2 separate regions of the Homo sapiens genome follow, and region 1 is reported to be linked to region 2. Evidence: microRNA targets listed by miRTarBase, many of them from high-throughput screens and not tested one by one. Region 2 holds a microRNA gene; the other region holds the end of a gene's coding sequence.
Evidence for each region. Region 2 holds the annotated microRNA hsa-miR-4762-5p (CCAAAUCUUGAUCAGAAGCCU, at 1,559-1,579, opposite strand). A microRNA usually pairs through its seed, bases 2 to 8, with sites in the 3' UTR of a target mRNA and lowers its output. Matches are read on the target gene's strand: a 7mer-m8 pairs with bases 2 to 8, a 7mer-A1 pairs with bases 2 to 7 and ends in A, and an 8mer does both.

Region 1: the mRNA of HOXB2 is a reported target of hsa-miR-4762-5p. The part of its 3' UTR that is shown has no 7-base or 8-base seed match.

The regions. Positions count from the first base shown.
Region 1 is chr17:48,540,504-48,543,503 of GRCh38, forward strand. It overlaps HOXB2 (homeobox B2), which reads right to left. Exons shown (of 2, transcript NM_002145.4): 2 at 2,152-3,000. The coding sequence ends at 2,565. Among named protein-coding and RNA genes, the nearest start is that of HOXB-AS1, 2.3 kb to the right of the region's middle. RefSeq lists a silencer at 2,732-3,000 and an enhancer at 2,829-3,000.
Region 2 is chr22:45,758,959-45,762,110 of GRCh38, reverse strand. MIR4762 (microRNA 4762) reads right to left here and starts at 1,587; the gene lies at 1,513-1,587. All of the region lies in intron 9 of ATXN10 (ataxin 10), which reads right to left.

The sequences.
Region 1 (3,000 bases), not on the chromosome of region 2:
ATCCTTGTGATATTCTTGATCTTTGTAACAACCTGCTATAGCTAGCTGCAAGAGCATTTTTAATTAGACCAAATTATCTAGTTTGACTGTCCATAGAAATCAAAGCCCCAGCTGAAATATCTGTTCATTTTGCTAGTGTAGAGATGGCTTGTGTGCTGTGATTTTTAAGATGTTAAACACTGCCTGTGGGCATATTTTATGGAGAAATAAACACACAGCCCAATGAGATGTATAGCGTAGTTTTAATATATTGTATATTCCCTTATTTATGGGGAAAATAAACACATAAGCCAATAAGCTGTGTATTACTACTTTAATATATTGAATTTATTTCATACCTATATATTTTATGAGGGAAAATAAGATACATGACATTATTATAACACATCTAATTGTTCTATATTTATTTATGAGAGAAATAAGTGCAATTTAACATGATGTAAGATTAATGCACGAGATGAATTCTATATTAAGACAGTTTAAGGGATTAAGTTCCAGCTAACTAAGAGGTGTGTACTTCCCACACTGAGGGACCCATTTTAAAATATGCAAAGGGCCTGTCTAGTCCTCTGTGTCACAACCTATGTTGGCTCCTGGCTTATCCTGACAATTGCTGCCTCTGGGTGACTGGTACTCTAAATCCCGGTCCTGTTGGTCCAGGGGAAAGTCTGGAGGCCCAGGAAATAAACTGCTTTTTGAGAAGGGCAGCATCTGCCGGGGAGATAGCCCCGTAGTGTCTGTTTCTGAGCGGGAGAAATATTAAAGAAACCTAAGGAGGATGGATGGCTTTCCGGGGACCTTTAAACCTCCACCTTCCCAGAACAAACCAGGAGGCAGATGGGGGAGATCGATCCTTGCTTCCCGCTTACCAGGTTTACAAGGAACCAGGCAGGGTGTGGTGGGGGATAGACAGGACATGGTGTTGATACGTGAAATGAAGTTGTTGGTCAAGACTGGTGGGTCTGCATTCAGAGAAAGCTCTGGCCTGGCTTCAAATCCCACAGCGAAGAATCAAAAGTCAGACTGGATGAGGCACACCCAGGCCCGCAGACCCGCCGCTCTCCTTCCCTTCCCACATCCACCCGGACTCTCCTTCCATCTCGCGTCCTCAGCGTCCGTTGGGCTCCACTTTAAAAATAAAAAAATCAAACTAACTAAAACGAAGGTGGGACCCCCCAGGCTCCCCTTCTTCCCTGGCCTCTGGAAAATCCAGCTGGGAGGACGCAGGGGCGGGGGCAGATCCCGGCTGGGCCGGCGCCTCCTGCAGCGGCTGTCATGGCGGCCACAGCTTCTTCCCTCGCCCCCCCCCCGGCCCGCCGCCCGGCCCCAGCGCCATTTTGAGCATCGTCTTTGCTTCCCTGTCTCCCTCCCGCTCTCCTCGCTCCTCCTTCTCTCCCCGCAGGTCCAGCGCCTCGCGACGCTGCCGGGCCACCCTGGGCTTCTCGCCCGGCTGCTGCTTGGATGGTCTCCCAAACCCCAGCAGCCCGAGTCCATGGGTGTCCCGGCAGCGCCACATTTCTCAGCTGGCCTCTTTTCTTGCCCACTGGGAAGCCAGTTACCATCCCTGGGTGCGGGACCCTGCTTCCCGAGAAAATCCCCGACCCCACTCCACTCCTTGGAGAGCCACCTACAGCTCCCAAAGAGGCCCGGCTCAAGCCCCAGGCCTCGCGTCCCTAGGCTTCTTGAGTTCGGAAAAAGGTCCTACACCGGCTTCGGTCATAAGAAGCAAAAGCCTAGGAAGCCCTTGGATTGTTCCCAATTCCAGTAAACTTCTGCCCCCGCCACGACCCTGAAGACTGTCCACAGGCTTCCTCTCCTTTCACCCTCCTCTGTTCGCTGTACACTCTCTCCCTCGACCTGCCCATCTCTATTTCCAAGCAGAGGCCCCAGAACCACCCGCTCAGGACCAAAGACCCTCTGCTGAGGGGCGGGGAGGTGACCCAGCTTCCTGCAAACTCCCGACTTTTGCCGGAGCCGTGGGCGAAGCGGCCATCAATCGGGTCACCTTTGTACCACCCGGACTTCGCCGGCCCTGGAGGCTTTGCTGCCATATGGGCCGCTGAACCTAATCAACTTCGCACAGGTCCTGGAGGGGTGAGGACCGGCCTTGGGGCCGCGGGGAAAGAGTTTAGGTCCCAACACAAACACTCGTTTTGGTATTATAAAGACATTTATTTAATCTATGAAAATAATGTACAATAAATACTTTCCCCTTTTCCTATTATTAAAGAATTTTAATAAATAATCTACAGTCTAAAACATAAAAAAGAGGAAAATAGGTCCCTCTAGTTATTTTTAAGAAAGTCCCCCTAGAGTTTAATTATTCCTGAGATTTCATTGGAAGGAGTCTACCAAACGGAATTTTTCTGTGTGAATTTTAAAAGATAACCGAGTGCCCAATATTTTAGAAGAAGAAGAAAGGGAGTGGATTAAACGCTAATTCAGTAATACCTGAATTTTAGCAAAACACATAAGTCTATGCGACTGAGGGTGGGAGAGGCTCGATTTTTCCAGTAGACGGCCAAGGAGCGCGGGGGTCGAAAGGACCGGGAGGAGGAAACAGGTTAGGGAAACTGCAGGTCGATGGCACAGAGCGTACTGGTGAAAAAATCCAGCTCTTCCTCGGAAAAAGGGACCGGGCTGTCGAGAGAACCCTGTAGGCTAGGGGAGAGGCCTCCGGATAGCTGGAGACAGGAGTCGGCCGCGAAGAAGTTGAGGTCGGGAAGGAAAGGTGAATCCTGGCGCCCCGAGAAGACGTCTTCTGGCAATGGCCCGGGCTCCAGCCCGCCGGCCCCGCGCAGCGCGCAGCCGGGACTCGACGCGCCTGCGCCCTCTAAGCGAACGGCTAAAGGCCGGGGGTCCGCGCTTAAGGCCCCCGGCACCACCTCCGGCGGGTGACAGCAGGCTTCCCACGCCGCCCGCGAGGCGGAGGGGCCGCCCGGGCTGGCCGCGGGTTCCTCGGCAGGGTCGCAGATGTCCTCCAGGGCTCCCGGGCAGGCA
Region 2 (3,152 bases):
ACTATCTTTTATGAGTAACTTTTGTTGGTTGGCTCACTTAAACCATAAAGTGAAGTAAAAACATATGACTAAATAGGAAGTTTTTAAAAATCAGAAAACCTGGGAGTCAGAAGGCTCTTAAAGGCGAATATGGTCCATTCACCTGCTTCAGTTAAGACCACAACTACTTCATCCCAGTCAGATGTGTTTTTTTTAAAAGCCAGATTATACTTTAATCTATTTAAGTATAGTTTCAGCCCAACTGCACTGAAATCAACCTTTTCTGTTTTAGCCAACATTTTAAAAAATCTAACACAATGGTCTAATTTTTTAAAATTTTAATTAAAGGCCCATTTAGAAAAGTAACCAACTTTTGATATTCCCTGAGGTGGAACTTAAAACAGATTTTAATGTAACTGCTAACAAGGACTAAGCAAAAACTGGGAAGAAGTGTATGATAAAAAAATAGATAAATAAAGAGCAAAGGCTTGCATAAAATGTTCCAGTCACTGGATTATAATGCTTCGTTACATTTGATTTTTACCTTTTCGAGATTATACCTATGATACTGTATTACAATTTAACCAGTTATCACCTAGTCTTCCATAAAGGTTGGTGAGAAATGAAAATTAAGTAAACACAGTATTACATAAGTGCTTAGAAAAGTTTAACTGTGAAAACAATGAACAGATTTAAAAATATTCATTTGTTCATCCCTAAAAGTTTACAGAGCACTCACTGTGGGCCCGGAACTGTGCCAGGGGCCCTGGAGAGAATGAGGAGCAAACAGACATGGAGCTTACATGCTAGGCTTGTAGTGTTTTAGATGGTAATACAGTCTCTGCTCAAAATCACCAATATAAAAACATTAAAGTCCCAGCTACTTGGGAGGCTGAGGCTGGGGAATCGCCTGAACCTGGGAGGTGGAGGTTGCAGTGAGCCGAAATCACGCCACTGCATTCCAACCTGGCGACAGAGCAAGACTCCGTCTCAAAAAAATAAAATAAAATAAAATACTGAGGTCACCCTTGAAAACATAAGCCAACAATGAAAATTCAACTTCTTTCCCAAAAGGAAAACAACAATAATGAAACAGAATAAGCTACCTGAAAGAAAGCTTCCTCTTTCATTACTCTTTATCAAATTACTGTCTCTCACATATGTCCTTTTATTTCCAGGCTTATCACCACCCTCCAACCAGGCCTCCACTGCTGTAGCAACCTTTTAACTGGCTCAGGAATCCACTCCGCACACTGGGGCTCTTATCAGTGAGGATGGGCTGGTTCGTGCTGCAGTAACAAACAATCCACAAAAATCTAAGAGGCTTAAAATGAAAGTTTCTTTCTTTCTCATGCCACTTAACAGCTGTGTGGCCTTGGGTACACTACTGAACCATTCTGGCCCTCAGTCTCCTCATCTGCAACATGGGAGAGGTATCATCATTAAATGAGGTAAGAGACGAATACTCAGAACTGTGCCTAGGACACAGGACACACTCAATAAGCAACTACTATTGCTGTAATCGTTGTTATTCTTGACACCACAAATCTTGATCAGAAGCCTTCCTAGCTTCTGATCAAGGCTTCTGATCAAGATTTGGGGTATCAGAAATAATGGGATATGACTACACCCTATCATCTAGCCATCTGTCTCCCACAGTAGATCATGAGCTACTTGAGAACAAGGACTGCCTCTGACTCCACTGTTGAACTGCAGAGGTTCACAGAAAGTGGCACATGGTAAGCACTCAGAAAGTGCTTGCTGCACTAAAGGGAACGATGTTGAATAATAATCACTGGTACGTGAATAAACCCCACATGTGCTGGACATACACAGAGTCCCATATTAATGAGGGCACACTCTCAGATGCATCTGGCCCGCAGGAAACCTGACTAAAAGCACATGATGAAGATAGGGAATGTCATCTGTAGGTGGGAAAGATGGCTTTACAGGCCCAGAACCAAGCCACAGTTGAGCTAGGCCACCAGTACATGGGCTACTGCTCCCAGGGAAGTCTAAGCAAACGAAGGAGGATGTTCCACGTTGTGGAATTAGCACAAATCTATCTCCACGTGGGGAAAGAATGTAATTCAAGATTCCCCCTGTTCCTCCTTCCTTTCTTAGGGCCATCATTCCCCTGCCCCATGCTCTCCTGGCACACTGGCACACAACAGCCAGCATGGAAAAAACTTTCTGAGGGGATAGAGGTGCTCTCTGTACCTTGACTGGGGTGATAATTACACAGGTGCAGACATCTGTCAAAACTTATCAGCCATTCATTAAAAATCTGTGTTTAGCTGTATGTAAATTAGAAAGAGAGAGAAGCAAGCGATGGACAGTGCTGACTGTTATATGGTCCCTTAGCTCATGCCGGCAGCTGAGGTGTGACCCCATCCCACCCCATCCCCTACAAAACTAGAGCTTTATGAAGGGCAGGGTGGCTGGGAGGGAGGAGCTGATGCAGCTTGGTAAACTGGCCTCTGGAGGACATTATGAAACCTTGCTCATCCTCGTGCAGCCTCAGCTCCCTCAGGAGGCCTTTCCTCCTGCTTCATGGCACAAGAAGAGTACGGAACCCTCACCCTGATCAGACTGCTCTAGAATCTTTTTTGTTTGTTTGTTTGACACGGAGTCTTGCTCTGCCCAGGCTGGAGTGCAGTGATGCTATCTCGGCTCACTGCAACCTCTGCCTCCCGAGTTCAGGTGATTCTCCCGCCTCAGCCTCCCGAGTAGCTGGGATTACAGGCATGCGCCACCACGCCCGGCTACTTTTTGTATTTTTAGTAGAGACAGGGTTTCACCATGTTAGCCAGGCTGGTCTTGAACTCCTGACCTCAGGTGATCCGCCCACCTCAGCCTCCCAAAGTGTTGGGATTACAGGTGTGAACCACCATGCCCGGACTCTAGAATCTTTTACTATTTATCATTGTCCCTCTAAGCTTCAAGTTACTTGAGGGTGAGGACCTTTTCTTCCCCTTCCTTCTCTCCAGCACCTCGCATAATGCTTGGCACACAGTGTGCTCTTAATCAATATTTGTTTCTCTGGCAGTAAGTTTCTAAAGTTATCTTTAAAGATATGAGATATACTGCCTTTAAATAAGAATGGTACTTCTAAGTAAGAATAATGTCTAAATTACATTAAATCTTGTTAACTCTAAAGATTTAAATCTCTT